Linked DNA regions of Homo sapiens: all the other regions are reported to be linked to region 1. The links are microRNA targets in miRTarBase. Many come from high-throughput screens and were not tested one by one. Region 1 holds a microRNA gene; each other region holds the end of a gene's coding sequence.
The links. The annotated mature microRNA hsa-miR-520c-5p reads CUCUAGAGGGAAGCACUUUCUG and lies in region 1 at 2,068-2,089, opposite strand. An mRNA with a match to its seed (bases 2 to 7 or 8) in the 3' UTR can be bound and repressed. Matches are read on the target gene's strand: a 7mer-m8 pairs with bases 2 to 8, a 7mer-A1 pairs with bases 2 to 7 and ends in A, and an 8mer does both.

Region 1 (3,578 bases):
CTACTCAGGAGGCTGAGGCAGGAGAATTGCTTGAACCCGGGAGGCGGAGGTTGCAGTGAGACGAGATCGTGCCAATGCACTCCAGCCTGGGTGACAGGAAAGAAAAAAAGAATATGCATTGTCTTACACACAAACATTCTCCAGGATAGAGCACTGCCTAGGCCGTAAAAGCTCCTCAATAACATTTGTACAGAAGTACGGGTGGAGTGCAGTGGCTTACACCTCTAATCCCAGCACTTTAGGAGTCGAAGGCGGGAAAATTACATGAGCTCGAGTTCAAAACTAGCCTGCCCAACATAGTAAAACCTCATCTGTAAAAATACAAAAGATAGCCAGGTGTAGTGGTTCATGCCTGTAGACACTAATTCAGGAGGCTGAGGTGGGAGGTAGAGGCTGCAGTGAGTTGAGGTCACAACACTGCACTCCAGCCTGGGCAATAGAGCCAGATGGTGTCTCAAAAAAAATTAAAAAAAAAAAAAATACACAAACAAAAACAACCCCAAAGTGATATAAGAGTATTCTCTGTGTGCAGAAGACTATTTTGTGTGAATATAATTATACATAGAAGATTATATGATAACATGTATATATTTTGGAGACCCTGTCTCAAAAAAACAAAGTTCCATGTACTATATGCTCACATAAAGAATAATTCCTACATACTAGTGCTTGGGCAGCAAGAACGAAACTCCATCTCAAAAAAAAAAAAAAGAAAAAATCAAAACAAAAACAGAAGCCCACCATCATCCATCTCTGATGATAAGCATGCTCTGAAAATGTATTACCAAGATCAGCATCAACTTCAATGTTGCTTTTCTCAAACGGTAACCCTCTAAAAGGAAGCACTTTCTTTTCTTTCAGACAACAGAAAGTGCTTCCCTCTAGAGGACGACAGCCTGAGATCTTCTTGCTCTGGCACTGTGGATTTTTTGTGGGAATCTTCCTTGACCAGGTTAAAATGGACGCAAAAATAAAGATGCATTTATTTGCCCTGTTTGCATGTTTTCTGGAATCCAGAGCATAAATCCCTAAAAGGACCATCTGCAGTTCTTTGCTTCAAAGAATCAGCAGGTTAGCCTTGTTCATCAACGGGCAATCCTCCTGAGTTTTGTTCCCAAAGAGAAAAGGCAATGCCTACTACACATACCTTATCTTTAACCAAGAGAATTGGGCTGGATTTCTAGAGAATAGCAATGGATTTTGAGCCAAGTGGTCGCTTGAGTTCCAGTACAGGAGCGCACAGTCCTCATGGGGGCATCCGAAATGGAATCTAAGATGTTGAAGAATATACACTGTTGTAGGCACAAACATCCTGCAGGGTAGACAACAGGCTACCCTGTAAACGCTCCTCAATAAAATCTGAGCAGAAACAGACGAGTATAGGTGGGGCACAACAGCTCACACCACTAATCCTAGCACTTTAGGAGGCCAAGGTGGAAGATCACCTGAGCTAAGGAGTTCGAGACCAACCTGGGCAACATGGGGAAACCACATCTGTACAAAAAAACCAAAAGTTAGCCAGGTGTGGTGGTGTATGCCTGCAGACAGCTATTCAGGAGGCTGAGCTGGGAGTTGGAGGTTGCAGTGAGCCGAGATCGCACCACTGCACTCCAGCCTGGGCGACAGAGTGAGACTCTGTCTCTAAAATGAATAAGTTAAAAAATAAATACATAACAATAATACAAAAATTAGCTGGGCGTGGTGGCATATGCCTGTAATCCCAGCTGCTCGGGAGGCTGAGGCAGGAGAATCATTTGAACCTGGGAGGCAGAGGTTGCAGTGAGCAAAGTTCCTGATACTGAGCTCCAGCCAGGGTCACAGAGCAAGACTCTGTCCCAAAAAAGAGGGCCACTTGAACCCAAGAGATCTAGGTTGGAGGGGCCACCATACTCCAGCCTGGGCAACAGACACCCTGTCTTAGGAAAAAAAACCAAAAAAACCCCACAAAACCCCAACATCATCCAAGTCTGATTATAAGCATGATCTCCAAGATCAGCATTAACTTCAATGTTGTTTTTCTCAAAGAGTAATCCTCTAAAAGGAAGCGCTTTCTCTTCTTTCAAGCAACAGAAAGTGCTTCCCTCTAGAGGGTCACAGCCTGAGCTCTTCTTGCTCCAGCACTGTGGGTTTTTTGTTGGAATTTTCCTTCACCAGGTTAAAATGGACACAAAAATGAGGATGCATTTATTGGCCCTGTTTGCATGTTTTCTGGAATCCAGAACATAAAACCCTAAAAGGACCATCTCCAGTTCCTTGCTTCAAAGTCTCAGCAGGTTAGCCTAGATCATCGAGGGACAATCCTCCTGAGTTCTGTCTCCAGAAAAAGCATTGCCTACTACACATACCTTACATTTAACCAAGAGAATTGGGCTGGATTTCTAGAGAACAGCAATGGATTTTGAGCCAAGCGTTCACTTGAGTTCCAGCACAGGGACACACAGTCCCGATGGGAGCATTCAAAACTGAATCTCCCATGTTGAAAAATATACATTGTTGGCCGGGCGCAGTGGCTTATGCCTGTAATCCCACCACTTTGGGTGGCTGAGGCGGGCGGCTCACATGAAGTCAGGGGTTTCAGACCAGCCTGGCCAACATGGTGAAAAAAAAAATACAAAAGTAACCGGGCGTGGTGACGGGTGCCTGTGATTCCAGCTACTCAGGAGGTTGAGGCAGAAGACTTGCTTGAACCTGAGAGGCAAAGGTTTGAGTGAGCCGAGGTCCTGCCACTGCCCTCTGGCCTGAGTGACAGTGAGACTCCATCTCAAAACAAATAAATACATGAATAAATAACATGCAAATATTAGCCAGGCATGGTGTCAGGCACCTATAATCCCAGCTACTCAGGAATGTGAGGCAGGAGAACTGCCTAAAACTGGGAGGTGGAGGTTGCAGTGAGCTGAGATCACGTCACTACACTCCAGCATGGGTCACAGAGCAAGACTGTCCGAAAAAAGAGGACCATTTGAGCCCAAGACACCTAGGTTGGAAGTGCCAACACACTCCAGCCTGGGCAAGAGACCCTATCTTAGAAAAACAACAACAACAAAACAGGACCCCACCATCCTCCATGTCTGATGGAAGCACGCTCTGCGAAGTTATTACCAAGATCAGCATAACTTGTTGGGAGGCCAAGGTGGGCGAGTCACCTGAGGTCAGGAGTTCCAGACCAGCCTCGCCAACAAGGTAAAATCCCAGCTCTAAAAATACAAAAAAAATTTTGCCAAGCGTGGTGACACGTGTCTGCAATTGTACCTACTTGGGAGTCAGAAGTTGCAGGAGCAGAGACTGGGCCGCTGCACTCCACCCTGAGGGACAGAGTGAGATACTGACTCAAAAAAAAAAAAAAAAAAAAATTGCTTGAACCCAGGAGGCAGAGGTTGCAGTGAGCCGAGATCACATTATTGCACTCCAGCTTGAGTGACAGAGTGACACTGCCTCACAAAGTCAAAGACAGAACAAAAGAACCCTCCTTGCCCTCTTCTTGCCTGTGCATAGATTAAAATATTCACCTGTAGTCCCAGATACTAGGAAGAGGAGAGGGAGAGAGCACATTCTACCCTGGGCGGCATAGCGAGACC
Region 2 (3,578 bases), not on the chromosome of region 1:
TCACCTCAAGTGATCCACCTGCCTCAGCCTCCCAAAATGCTGGGATTACAGGTGTGAGCCACCATGCCTGGCCTGTTATTTCTCAGTGTAAAGATAAGGGACCTGTGATATTGAGGGGTTAAAGTACTTGCACAGTTTCACTGCTAGTAATCTTGGAGAGCCAAGATCTGAACTCGGGGATCTAGGCCCTTACCCACAACCAACATGCCTAAGTAAGGCAAGGGTGTGGACAGTGCAATGCTTTGTGCTGGAGCAGCAGGTACCAGGCCTCCAGGAGATGAGTCTCCTTCTCTTCACCATGTAACGTACCAAATAACTTTTGTTTCTCGTCCTGCCCCCGAGGAAAGGGCAGTGCCCTCAATGTGCCCTGGTTTGTGCTGCTCCCTCCCTGGTATCCCTGCTTTAGCTCTGGCCACACCAGATGAGTTAGGGGAATCCAGGTGGTGGGAGTGGAAAAATTGGGTTCTCTCGTGGGGAAAGACGAGAGACTCACAGAGGGCACTTCCCCACAGGATGAAAAGTACTGGACAAGACGCAAGAAGAACAACGTGGCAGCTAAACGGTCACGGGATGCCCGGCGCCTGAAAGAGAATCAGATCACCATCCGGGCAGCCTTCCTGGAGAAGGAGAACACAGCCCTGCGGACGGAGGTGGCCGAGCTACGCAAGGAGGTGGGCAAGTGCAAGACCATCGTGTCCAAGTATGAGACCAAATACGGGCCCTTGTAACCCGTGCCCCCCGCCCGGGCGGGGTACTGCCTGCACCTCAGACCTCTGCCTGGGGGCTCCCTGTAACCCCTCACACGCGTGGAGACTTATGACTCGTCGTGGGCGCATGGCGGCGCACCTGCTGCAGGAGCGGCCACGTCTCAGCTTCATTATACCATGGCCTGCGCACGTGGCGACGTCCCTGAGGGGCCAGTCTCCTCACTGGTGGGGAACGCAAGAGAATCTGCGTAGATGGGTGACTCAGCCTTAGTTTCTATTCTTGGATGTCCCAGTTGAATCAGAAGGGGACCTCTGGAGTACACACCTCTCTCCTGGGCGCTCAGGGTCCCTGGACTCTCCCTCAGTCTCCAGCCTGGGCTGCCGAGGGCTATCTCTGCAGAATGAGTTGTGATCATTGTCACCCTATGTCTTCTCAGGTAGCAGGGCGCGTTTCCACTTAAGGTGTGTCTGTCACGCACCTCATTCTCCCCAGACAGTCTTTGAGTAACATCTGTTCCCATCTTCCTTGGAAGCAGGACACACCAGCTCCTCCGTCAGTGTCTGCATGGGTAGCAGGCTGCAGGAGTGGGGTCTCTGCACAGCCTGGGATGGGGCTTGGGGCTGGGGCCTGCAGCAGAAGTGTGCCCAGCGTTTCTCGGCTCCCGCACCCCTTTTCCCTTATGGCTCTGAGGCCATCGGCTGTCTCTGCATTTCATTGGCTGTGGAGGAGAGACTCCTAGGATGGCTGCTGTCTGAGCCATGAGTGCCAGGGCTGAGAGAGGCCTCTTCATTTCCTCTCCAGGCTACTCAGAGGCCATGTGAAGCTCGTTTGTCCCACTAGACCAGGCCTCTGGGCCTGCTCTTTCTTTCCACCCAATGTCCAGTCTTGGATCATAGATTTAAAAGGAAAACCCCTCTTATCTAGGAGGCTTTAACTTCCTGGACCCCAGGATTCACCTTCCTAGTGGTGTTTAGAAAATGCCTCCACAGCCCCCTTCCACCATGGGCATGAGAGCTGGGGTGTGTTTCTTGAGAAGCTCCCTTTTTTCTTGCTCTGCTCACCGGTGTGGCCTGGGCTGGAGTGCACTCTCCCTGGGGGCAGCTGGGGCCTCGCAATTCTTGCTTCAGGATCTCTCCCATGCGAGCTGCCCGGAGGGTGTCAGCAGGGCAAGACACCTAGTCTAGAGTCACCAAGGTCACAGTGCCACTTTCACGGGATAGCAGGCTCTTGGGACTTTTACACAGGCCTAGGGTCCCCTCAGTCTTGGTCCCAGGAGATGGGGGCCACTCGTGAGGCTGGCCATGCTGTGGCTTCTCACAGCTGTGGTCTCCCCTGCCTCACAACGACTCCTTTCTCTTGTGTGGCGGGACTCGCCCTTTTGCTGTGCTCAGAAGATTCACTGAGGAAACTCATGGAAGCCTCTGCTCATTTGGGTCACTGGGACACCCCTGAGATGGGTGTGTTTATTTGCTCAGGGCGGGCAGCCTATGGTGAAGAGGAGACAGAGGCGATGGGCGTGCTTCGTCCTCCGTAACACTGGCTTTATTTACCGTGGTGGTTCAGAGTCCCAGGCCCTGACCTCTAAAGACTTTTCATAACAGACGTTAAGACCAAGCCGTGGACCTCACCCCAGGGGAATGCCACGGCCCTTTGGGGACCTGCACACCCACCTCTCCGGGGGACTTGACAAGGGGCCCTGAGGCCAAGGGAGGTCACTCCTCCCTCCAGGCCCCTGACTTTTACTTTGTGGTTCTCTAAAAACCATGTACACACTTTCACTCTATTGTAACCACACAGGGCAGGCGCATCCAGCATGTCAGTGTCCTGCCCCGGGCAGCTCTCCCTCCCGGGCACGCTCCCTCTGGCCTGGTGGATCACCAAGAGGGCGGTTCTCATTTTGTTATTAGTGGAAGAGCCTTGAGCTTAAAAGCTCTTCATTTTCTTTGCCGGAAAGTATATGGTTTGTGTTTTTGCAGTTTTATTTTTTTAAGGATGGACACTAAATCTCTGGTGTCCATGTTCCGAGCCCGGTGGCTGGGATGGTGGCTCGATGTGTCTCCTCTTTATCCCGCCCTCTGCCTGTTTGGTGCCCTCCCTTCTTTCCCCCAGGCAGTGGGTATCGGGTTCTTTCCCAAAGTGCTTACTTGGAAAGAGTGTGGCTGCTGGACTCTTTTCGAAATGCCCCTCTGAGTCAGGAGCCTGGTGGGGACAAGATGGAGGATGTCCACAGAGGCTGACCTGTGGGGGAAAAGAAGTGCTCAGGTAAGGTTGTCTCCTCTCCTGTCCTAAAAAAATCCATGCTTGCAGGAGAGGGTTGGTGCCTGCTCAGTTTCTGTCGAGGGAATGGGAGTCTCCTCGGCTCCCTCCTGGGCCCTCTGCTTCTTGGAGGCCGACCGCTGGAGACTGCGGCTCCTGTGCTTGGATCTTTGACATCTGTCAGTCACTGGAGGCTAGAGAAGTTGACTTTACCTTGGCTTTCTGTGGGTTCCCGATGGGCTTGGAAGTGCCGTCTACTTCCTAAGCATCCTGTCTAAAGCTTTGTGGCACCCTCAGTGCAACCTCAGAACAGACAAATCATGAATGAGCTGGAACTTTGCAAGAATATTCATATTATAAATGTCTCATCTGATGGAGGAACGTGTGCATTTAGAGAGAGGGAGAGTTTTCAAGGTTTATGGCAACTTTGTGGAGGACCTGGGTAACTCTTACCCTTGGCCAAAGGAAGAGGTTTTCCTGTCTGGCTTCTGAGGTTGGAGGGGGCACTTAGCAGTGAACCTTAAGTCTGGGTACATGTAACCCTGCTGAGGGGCTGTGCAGGCCGCTCCTACGGTCCTTTGGCCTGAGGCAGGGCGGGAGGCATGCAAGCCAGT
Region 3 (3,578 bases), not on the chromosome of region 1:
CAGCCTAGCCCCAGGGGCTGTGGTGCCTACCTCAGTCATTGCCCGAGTGTTAGAGAAGCCGGAGTCTCTACTGCTCAATTCAGCCCAGTCAGGCAGCGCCGGGCGCCCCTTGGCTGAGGATGTCTTTGTGCATGTGGACATGAGTGAGGGTGTCCCAGGTGATCCAGCCAGTCCCCCGGCCCCTGGCAGCCCCACCCCACAACCCAATGGGGAGTGCCACTCTCTGGGTACTGCCAGGGGCTCCCCGGAGGAAGAGCTGCCCCTGCCAGCCTTTGAGAAGCTGAACCCCTACCCAACCCCGTCTCCACCACACCCACTGTATCCTGGCCGCAGGGTAATAGAGTTCTCTGAGGATAAGGTTCGGATCCCCCGCAACAGCCCCCTGCCCAACTGCACTTACGCTACCCGCCAGGCCATTTCCCTGAGCCTGGTAGAGGAGGGGAGTGAGCGGGCCCGCCCCAGCCCAGTGCCCAGCACCCCTGCCTCAGCCCAGGCCTCACCCCACCACCAGCCCAGCCCAGCACCCCTAACACTCAGTGCCCCAGCTAGCTCTGCCAGCTCTGAAGAGGACCTGCTGGTCAGCTGGCAGCGGGCATTTGTGGACCGTACTCCACCACCTGCTGCTGTGGCCCAGCGCACAGCCTTTGGACGCGATGCCCTCCCTGAGCTGCAGCGCCATTTTGCCCATAGCCCCGCTGACAGAGATGAGGTGGTCCAGGCACCTTCTGCCCGACCCGAAGAGAGTGAGCTTTTGCTACCCACAGAACCTGACTCTGGCTTTCCCAGGGAGGAAGAAGAGCTGAACCTGCCTATCAGTCCTGAGGAAGAGCGCCAGAGCCTGCTGCCCATTAACAGGGGCACAGAGGAGGGGCCAGGCACTTCCCACACCGAGGGCAGGGCCTGGCCACTCCCCAGCTCCAGTCGCCCCCAGCGCAGCCCCAAGAGGATGGGGGTTCACCACCTGCACCGCAAGGACAGCCTGACCCAGGCCCAGGAGCAGGGCAACCTGCTCAACTAGGGCCCCTGCTGGCCTTCCTGCCATTGCTGCACCAGGACTGCAAGGAGTCCCCACACCTTGGCAGCTCAGGGTCCCCAGTCCAAGCCCTTGACCTCTCCTCTATCCAGACCCGCACAGCTGTTTCCTGTGTGGATGGGGTCAGGTTGTGGGCCATGCCAGGCCTGTCAGCTGCGTTGACTGACTGCAGCAGCTTGCCTCATGGTTTTCCCTTTTTCTTAGAATATTTATTCTTCAGAGGTAACATGCAGTTGGGTCTCAAGACCTTTCCTCCAATCAGCCCAACCCAGCCCAGACTGGGCTTTTCTGGGGAGCTGAGGAGTTTATCAGTATTCATCTTCCATCCTTTCATAGTCACAAGTTTTGTTATTTTGTTTTTTTTTGGGGGTGATGGTGTAATTGTTAACCTCATTTCCGTTTCCTACCTGTTTGCTTCCCCCCCCAGTCCTCCGCATGAGCTGTTGCCCTCCAGGGGCCTGGCACAGCTGGCCTTGGGGACGAGGGAGAGGACTGATTCAGGGCCCCCTCAGCTGTCTCCTCCCTCCCTCTGGAAAGGAGGGTGGGGCTCAGGGGCCTCAAGCTGGGCTCTGTGTGAGGCCTGGCCCCCACTCCCAACCTTGGCTCTAGACTGTTACTCTTAAGCTTTGAGAAATTTTCACATTGATGACTATTTTAAAATCAAATAAAACTATTTTACTGGTATGGCCTAACTTGTCTTAATGACCTCCCCTCTCCCACTTTTCTCCCCATTCATAAGTATTCCCAGTCCTAGTCTCATCCTAGTCGGCTAGTGACTCCCCCTCGCCCCACTCTGCCTAGGGTTTCCCTAGGCACAGAGCATCAGGGAGCGGGAAAGGGGGCACCTTAAGTAACCTTAGCAGGGTTCCTGAGTCTTCCCTCGGAGGCAGGGACCATATCTTTATGGGGCTAGTGTAAGGTGTTGCCTCAGAGGCCTGGGTTCTAGGCCTGGCCAGGCCTATTTTGAGATCCTGGACCAGGTCACGCAGCTTAGAGCTTGGGCTGTGCGATGCTACTGCCCCCTAGTGGTGCTTACTGGTAGTTCCAATTCCTCCCCTACTGCCGGCCCCAAGTGACTACAGCCACACGACAGGTTGTGGAGTTCATAAAATCTTTTCCGAGCCAGCGGGTTGCAGCCAGAGCTGCCAAGTTCAAAGGCATTGCCGTGGGTTCAAGTGCCCCCCAAGGCTGTTGCTCAGTCACAGCTTCCAGAGCTTCCTTCCCACCACACTGCCAGGAGCTGCCAGAGCCCCCATGCAGCCCCTGACCCCAGTTCCCTCCCAAGTCCCAGGGCCTGACCCTGATATCTGGGGCAAGGTGCTCGGGACATAGATAAGTGAAATGGTGTGCAGAGGCCCAGTGGAGAGTCACATCTCGGTCTCAGCCAACAGACTGTCCCCTAGTCCTGACGTCATTAGCACCATCTGAGAGCTGGGATCTGTGGAAGGGCAGAGAAGTGTTCAGACCACCATTCCTTCCTCCAATGGGGACCACAGATAGGTGAGAGCCTAGGTTCTGCACACCCACTCTCCCTTGTCCCGAGCCTCTTCCAGACCTGGCTCTGATCAACCCTCTGGGTTCTTACCGCTGGGGCACATCCAGGAGCTGCTGCCTCTCTGGTGGGCAGCAGGCTCCCGCCCTCTCTCCCATTCCTGGGTGTCGCCAGCCCCTCCTGCCACTTCCTCCTCCTCCTCTCCCTCAGAGAGGAGGTCACAGATCTGTTGCTGCAGCTCTGGGCTAATGCTGTTCTCAGCCAACACCAGGCTCCGCAAAGCTGTGGGGTAATTTTCTACCATGTCCAGCAGGGTCTGAAGTGGGGAAGAATATGGAAAAGGATGAACACAGTTAAGGCAGGTCCTCAGACCTCAACCTGCCATGCCTTAGGTATGTCATCAGACACATAAACTAACCTCCACCCCATCCCCTGGCCGTGCCCAAACATGACGACTTCCCACCTGAGCTGACTGGTTGGTGAGCCCTGTGCCCTCCAAGTCTAGGACCTCTAGGGTACGACTAGAGGCCACAGCTACAGCCAGCATTCCTGCCACATGGTCACCTGGGGAGACAACACACGTGCACACATTCATACACATGCCTGCTAATCCTTACAGATAGCTTCCCCATTGCCTTAACAACTTTAGATACTAATCCCTGGCCAAGGAAACATGGACAATTGGTGGTGGTCAGGAAGGGATCATTGTGATTGGTGAGTGAAGGCACGAAGCAAGTTAGGCCCACGGGTGGTGACTGATGTTTTGATCTATTTGTTGGTCACCTGGTCCGCCACAAAGCTATCTCCTTGACCCCTGGGGGCTCCCGTTTCTCTTCCCTCTCCCAGTGTACGGGTTACCATGTCAACTGATGGTCCCAGGCTCTTGGATAGGGCATGAGGCAGTGACAGCCCAAGGGGGTATTCTTGAGCCTCACCCAGGGGGTTGTAATCCAGATTGAGGACGCGGACCTGGGAGCTGTGGGCCACGGCAATGGCAAGGCGGCTCCAGCCCTTAGGGGTGATGCCAGGGTTGGCACTCAGCGTTAGCTCCTT
Region 4 (3,578 bases), not on the chromosome of region 1:
CCATTAATTGTAAATCTAATTTGTTCAAGTAGGCCATGGCCAGACAGACAGTGGGGATTGTGCATATTTGATGACATCATAGAGCACTGCAGTCCAACTTCATTTAAATATGTAGAATATTTTCGGTGGCCAATGCTACTAAATATGCGAGATAACAACCCTGAAGTCAGGCAAGCTGCTGCTTATGGCCTGGGTGTCATGGCACAGTTTGGTGGAGATGATTATCGTTCTTTATGTTCAGAAGCTGTTCCACTTCTGGTAAAAGTTATTAAGTGTGCAAATTCCAAAACCAAAAAAAATGTCATTGCTACAGAGAACTGTATCTCAGCAATAGGGAAGATTTTGAAGTTTAAGCCTAACTGTGTAAATGTAGATGAAGTTCTTCCACACTGGTTATCATGGCTTCCACTGCATGAAGATAAAGAGGAAGCTATTCAGACTTTGAGTTTTCTCTGTGACCTAATTGAAAGTAACCACCCAGTTGTAATTGGTCCAAATAATTCCAATCTTCCCAAAATAATCAGTATAATTGCAGAAGGAAAAATTAATGAGACTATTAACTATGAGGATCCTTGTGCCAAACGCCTAGCTAATGTCGTGCGTCAGGTACAGACTTCTGAAGATTTATGGTTGGAATGTGTATCACAACTTGATGATGAACAGCAGGAAGCCTTACAGGAGTTGCTAAATTTTGCTTGAAGCACTTTAATATAACTTGAATATTATCTATTATAAAAGTAACTACAAATAAGTGTTGTGAATAGATTTTATTATAAATCAGAGAACTGTTTTCTCCCTGCTAAGCAGTTTATAGTTCTTCTCCATGTTTCTCCAGAATTAATCAGTGTTAGTCCTCTGTTTATCTCGCATGTTTTATCTTCCAAACACAGACCTTGGTGATAACCTGTGCTTCAAACTGTCTTAAACAATGTTTGTCACCTTTCCCCTAGTTGATGTAAAGTATATAAATTGTTGCTATTTGTTTGAACTATTATTGATGCTAGCCAAGCAGTATACTTGATGTGAAGATGTCATGCTATCACAATATGCTAAGAGCTCACAAAAATAAGATAGAATTTCCAGGACAAACATCTTTGGAATTGTGAGTGAAGGATATAGTGGCAGGCTTGTCCCTCTTTAATTAATACTCTTGGTATTTGTGGTGATGGGAGGATGCTGTTACTAGGAGAGTTTTGAGATACTGCAGTGGATGTGGGATGTATATGAACTTCTTCATAATGTACTCCTGGGAACTGGGTAGGACATATCCATATTGTAGTTCCCAAGGTGTCTGGTTGAGAGTTAGAGAACTTTTAAATTTCTTTAGCCAGACAGGTCTCTATTTTTTTAAGTTATCCAGGACTCCAAGAACCATAGTTACTGAAAAGGGAGTCCTGATACATCTAATATTGGTAGCATGTAACAGTGTTTGACAAAGAGTAAGTAAGCAGTATTCTTGGGAGTCAGTGTTATGTGTTTCAGCAGAGTATTATTTTGTATATGTATGCCATTTTCTCCCTGCAAAGCAGCTCAACAAGAGAAAAAGCTCTAGTTATAGGGCTTAAATTGATTTCTATTTCAAATAATTTCCTAAGAGATTCTAGAGTAGAACTGAAGAGTATTCTATTGGAAAAGTGAAAGGAAAGAAATGTAATTTTCTTTGAACATGAAAAAGAAAACAACTTTGAGAGTAGTCATTTAGCAGTAGATGTGCATTATTATGAGAAAACAGTTCTATAAGTCCAGGGTTAATTATATTAATTGGAATGTCAGTCTTTAATGTCGAGCTTATTGTAGGGTAGAAAAGAGCTTTCTACTCAGCTAACGATTACTCATTGATCCAAAACTTAAATACATCTATAATTTCCTGGGGCTATTGTGAGTACTGTGTATGTATTTAGCAAATATTTAAGACCTAGTAAGTGCTCAATAAATTGTAGCTGTTATTGCTGTTGTTGTTTGTACCTCTATTGTGTCTGGAACTTCTTTTACTTTAGAATTTTCCCAATCCATTCCCTACTCATTCATATTGGCAGGCTATTTAGGCTATTGTTGACAAGAATATAAAGTTGAGATTTTAGATATGCAATTCTGTCCATTCCATGTAATTATTACTAATGGGGGAAAAAGGAAAATTAAGGACATTATGTATAGTATGATCACAATTTTTAGTATATTTAAGATAAATAAAGTATAGAAGAATGAATAGAAAAATCCCACCTCAAAGTATTAATAGAGGTTTTCTCTAGGTGGTAGGATTAAGTGGCAAATTTTCTCCTCACTTACCTATATTTTCTAATTTACCTACATACCTACAACCAACATATTTCTTGTTTTGTTTGTTTGTTTTGAGATGTAGTTTTGCTCTTGTTGCCCAAGCTGGAGTGCAATGGCACGATCTCGGCTCACTGCAACCTCCGCCTCCCAGGTTCAAGCAATTCTGCCTCAGCTTCCCGAGTAGCTGGGATTACAGGTGCGCACCACCACTCCCAGCTAATTTTTTGTATTCTTAGTAGAAACGGGGTTTCACCATGTTAGCCAGGCTGGTCTAGAACTCCTGACCTCAGGTGATCTGTCCACCTCAGCCTCCCAAAGTGCAGGGATTACAGGTGTCAGCCACCGTGCCCAGCCCATATTTCTTGTGTAATAGAGTTTCTTTTTTAAGATCAAGGACCCGATCCTACTTTCATTATAGTTAAGTTGCTATCATCTTGACCTCTTCATAACCTAGAGTTGAGGTTCCTTCTACTCACCCACACCTTTCTCTTTTATATAATCTTAATTAAGAAACCCTTTATCAACATTTCTAGCAATTCCCTACACTTTTATGTATGAGGAATTAGAAATTCTGCCAGATGACTTGGAATTAGGCACCTGGAGTTTTTGAAGTATGACAGACCTAGATTTTAACTTTGTTTAACAACTTTCTTAAACTAAGAGGCAGTTTCCTCATCTGAAAAATAAGGTTAATACCTAGCTGATAGGCTTGTTGTGAGATTAAAGGAGACAATGAATATAAAGTGCTTAGTGGCACAGGGTTCAATAATGTAAGCTAATATTGTCCAAGAGTCATGAAATAGAGCTGATGACTAAAGAGGAGTAGAGGATGTTTGCTTGGGTACGTTGGGCTTCAGATTCCTGGGCTTTGTCGAAAGAAAGGAGGAATGTCTAGTCAGACACACGTTTTGGTTGCCAGGTGCTGAAGTAAGACTGATCCCTGCATTTTTCTTTCTGTGAGCTGAGGTTCTGTGGACTCTTCAGAGTCCACAGACTCTTCTCTGAGGGGAGAGAACCCTGTAAATGCGTTATATATTACAAATGTCTGATGAGAGGAGACCTCGAATACTAGATAAAAGGTATGTGTGGAGGACAGTGTGAATACCCTAACAGAGCGTTCCCGCTTCACTATTTTACTTAAGAGTGATACTTAACTTACTGGACAAAAACAGCTTTGAGGTTAAAAAAAAATTTTATCACTGCTTTAAAGTTCACATTAATGAGAAGTAAACAATTGCAAGAGTCAGAGTATCCTAATCATTTAGTTATACACATTTTACTTTTAAAATGCATGATTTCTG
Region 5 (3,000 bases), not on the chromosome of region 1:
AAATGCCCCCACATAATAAAGAGTGCTTGTATTAGGATACAGTAGCAAAATCACCCCCACATCACAGTGGTTTATTCTGACCAAAGCATTTATTTTCATTCCATTTACATAGGAGGTGGCATTGTAGAAAATAAAAACTTTCTCAAAGAGATATGAATTAAAGAAAAGTTAGAGTAAGGTGAATACTTATTTAAACATACCTTTAGAGTGAGGGTAAGCCCCCTTCCCAACCCAAAATGAACTGAATGAGAGAGAAAAAGAGGTCCAGAGTAGTTTGTGGAGCGATGTTTCCATCTCTAATGCCACTCAGCTCAGGAGCAGGCTTCAGACACTGCCTTTATCTTTACAGAAAGCCATGGGAAGGGAAATGTCTGAGGTAGAGCTCAGCGTTGGGCATCATATGGCTAATCACTCAGAGGTCACTAATCACTCTCCCTTTTCTTGTTTTTCAGTGAACGAGATAATTGGGAGAGACATGTCCCAGATTTCTGTTTCCCAAGGAGCAGGGGTGAGCAGGCAGGCTCCCCTCCCGAGTCCTGAGTCCCTGGATTTAGGAAGATCTGATGGGCTCTAACAGTGCTTACTGCAGCCTTGTGTCCACCACCAACTTCTCAGCATGTTTCTCTCCTTGGACCTTGGGTTTCCAACTCTGCAGCCTTCAGGTCTGGGGCCAGGAGTGGGACCCACCATTTGTGGGGAAAGTAGCATTCCTCCACCTCAGGCCTTGGGTAGATTTGGCAAAAGAACAGGAGCAGCATAGGCTGTTTGAGCTTTGGGGAAATGAACTTTGCTTTTTATATTTAACTAGGATACTTTTATATGATGGGTGCTTTGAGTGTGAATGCAGCAGGCTCTCTTGTTTCCGAGGTGCTGCTTTTGCAGGTGACCTGGTTACTTAGCTAGGATTGGTGATTTGTACTGCTTTATGGTCATTTGAAGGGCCCTTTAGTTTTTATGATAATTTTTAAAATAGGAACTTTTGATAAGACCTTCTAGAAGCAAAAAAAAAAAAAAAAAAAAAAAAAAGAAAAAAAAAGAAAAGAAAAAAAGAAAAAGAAAAAAATATCCCAAGCCCACACCTATGCCTCAGAAAGTCAGCATGTGTCCTGAAGACGTTCATAGATTTATAGGAAATAAAGCCAAATGTAGCTCATACCTCTTTATAAAACTAAACTGTTGTTAGATAAAATGAGAAGAGACCATTCCATCATTGAAGTGTTGGAATATAAAAAGACATTCCAGAGCATAGCCTTTTGGTAACTTTCTAGGTAATCTTGCAATCTCTCCATACTGGCTCCATGTTGAAATTGCTTTTTCCCTCAGGACCCTGGGTAAGATGGCTACATTTAAGGTGACTCTGAATGGTGGGGTTCTAGCTTGGTCACTTTCATTTCTTGCCATCATAAAAACTAGTAGGCTGTGGAGTGCGCTTCCTGTTTGTGTCATCTGGTCGTAGAACCTTTTCCAAACAGAAGCATCTGCCTTTGGCTGTTCTGTGACCTTTGAAGCCAGTCTCAGTGGTTTAGGCAGCTTTGCAGTTCTAACTCTAGCTAGAGGCCAGGCTGTGTGCAGAGCTAAAGCACAAATGAGCAGTACATCAGCATGGGCAGAGAAAATACAGGACTCCAGATGGGAAGGTTTTAAGAGTCACACTGGCATGGAAGGCTTATCTGCCATTCTATTTATAGCCTGAAATGATTCTGGCCTACCCTGTCCTGTCTGTATGATCTAAAAACCAGCCTTTTCCCCAGAAGGCTCTGAGCACATCCAGAAGTGATAACCTGACCCTCCACACCAAAGACACCCTGGTGCTGCTGCTGGTGAGACTGGTGTCCAAGGCAGGGCCCAGCAGAAACTGCAGCCTGCTGTCTACCAAAGGAGGTACCCGAGTTGGGTACTTTAAAAAAAAAAAAAACCTGCCCTTACCCCTCTCCCTAATGGGATTTTTTTTACCTGTTCCTGGGCCCATTACAGAGCCTCTGAAGTTTGCAGTATGCTTTCAAATGAAATAATATACTTCCATTGATTCAGGAAGCAGATTTTTTGAGTGCCTATATGTGAGACAGTGTGCTGGTTGAAGGCCTGATGCTGTTATTCCAGGAGACTGCAGGCCCTTGATGCCAGGACTCTCTCTACTAAGGCCAGTTCAGGTCTGGGAAAGGGAGCTGGCCTATTGCCCACCACCTGTTGTCAGTAGGTTAGGAGCTGTTGACTCAGGATGAGGAAGTATGGTCTTTAAAAAAAACAAAATATATTTTAGATTTCTCCCCTAAAGTTAGTTAGAGAAAAAGGTCTATTCTTCAGCAGATCACTGTGGCCCCTCTTGGAGCTGGGTGTTTTCAAATTTTCTTGAAAAGTGAGTTGTGTCACAGAATGTGGATAGTGAGATTTGCTTCTGGGCCTGTGGTTGGACGCCCACAGCTTCCTTTGGAGGGGCAAGAAGTTGGCCTCTCGGTTGACATTCCAGAGAAATGGCCAGACTTGCCCCTACCCTTTTGCCCCTGGTGTAGCTGCCTCACATGAGGTTATTGCAAGAGTTCCCCTTGCAATACCCTTTGTGCCCTCAAGAATTAAAAGCCTCTATGATCCAGAGTTGCTATGCACCAAATTTTGATGCCTTCTAAATACCTTGATGCCTGTAGCACTAGAAATGCTTTCCTATTTAAAATAAACATTAAATTTTAAAATAGAGCTTTGTATACTATGTAAGCAGTTTTATATCAGCTTTGTAAAAGCTTTGGTGTTAAGAGTCAATATTTTTTGGCTTTGTAGATAAAGACTTAAATTTTTGTGCAACATAGTGGTGTTAAAGCACACATCCATTGGACTATGCAAATCAATTTCTACTAGCAGCACTGAGCAACTGGGCACGTGCTAGTACGCACCCCCTCCTACTCTAACTGTGCTAGCTCTTGGGTTGAGGAATGGAATGGGTAGCCTTCTGCTTACTGGAGATGCACAGAGAAACATGGCTGAAAACAGCTTTAAAAAGAACATGTC

Region 2: the mRNA of TEF is a reported target of hsa-miR-520c-5p. The part of its 3' UTR that is shown has no 7-base or 8-base seed match.
Region 3: miRTarBase lists TJAP1 as a target of hsa-miR-520c-5p. Seed matches in the 3' UTR shown: 7mer-m8 at 1,637-1,643.
Region 4: miRTarBase lists RANBP6 as a target of hsa-miR-520c-5p. The part of its 3' UTR that is shown has no 7-base or 8-base seed match.
Region 5: the mRNA of NFATC3 is a reported target of hsa-miR-520c-5p. Seed matches in the 3' UTR shown: 7mer-A1 at 992-998.

What each region holds. Positions count from the first base shown.
Region 1 is chr19:53,704,777-53,708,354 of GRCh38, reverse strand. MIR526A1 (microRNA 526a-1) reads right to left here and starts at 2,103; the gene lies at 2,019-2,103. MIR520C (microRNA 520c) reads right to left here and starts at 902; the gene lies at 816-902. LOC107985346 (a long non-coding RNA gene) reads right to left here. Exons shown (of 5, transcript XR_001753998.1): 3 at 3,510-3,578; 4 at 1,148-1,270; 5 at 46-86.
Region 2 is chr22:41,395,233-41,398,810 of GRCh38, forward strand. TEF (TEF transcription factor, PAR bZIP family member) reads left to right here. Exons shown (of 4, transcript NM_003216.4): 4 at 513-3,578. The coding sequence ends at 728. Among named protein-coding and RNA genes, the nearest start is that of TEF, 15 kb to the left of the region's middle.
Region 3 is chr6:43,504,838-43,508,415 of GRCh38, forward strand. It overlaps TJAP1 (tight junction associated protein 1), which reads left to right. Exons shown (of 11, transcript NM_001350562.2): 11 at 1-1,717. The coding sequence ends at 1,018. It overlaps LRRC73 (leucine rich repeat containing 73), which reads right to left. Exons shown (of 6, transcript NM_001012974.4): 3 at 3,461-3,578; 4 at 2,989-3,089; 5 at 2,619-2,841; 6 at 2,131-2,471. The coding sequence ends at 2,401. Among named protein-coding and RNA genes, the nearest start is that of LRRC73, 3.7 kb to the right of the region's middle.
Region 4 is chr9:6,009,411-6,012,988 of GRCh38, reverse strand. It overlaps RANBP6 (RAN binding protein 6), which reads left to right. Exons shown (of 1, transcript NM_012416.4): 1 at 1-1,964. The coding sequence ends at 699. Among named protein-coding and RNA genes, the nearest start is that of BRD10, 2.7 kb to the right of the region's middle.
Region 5 is chr16:68,225,898-68,228,897 of GRCh38, forward strand. It overlaps NFATC3 (nuclear factor of activated T cells 3), which reads left to right. Exons shown (of 10, transcript NM_173165.3): 10 at 453-3,000. The coding sequence ends at 574. Among named protein-coding and RNA genes, the nearest start is that of MIR6773, 6.1 kb to the right of the region's middle. RefSeq lists an enhancer at 1,540-1,589.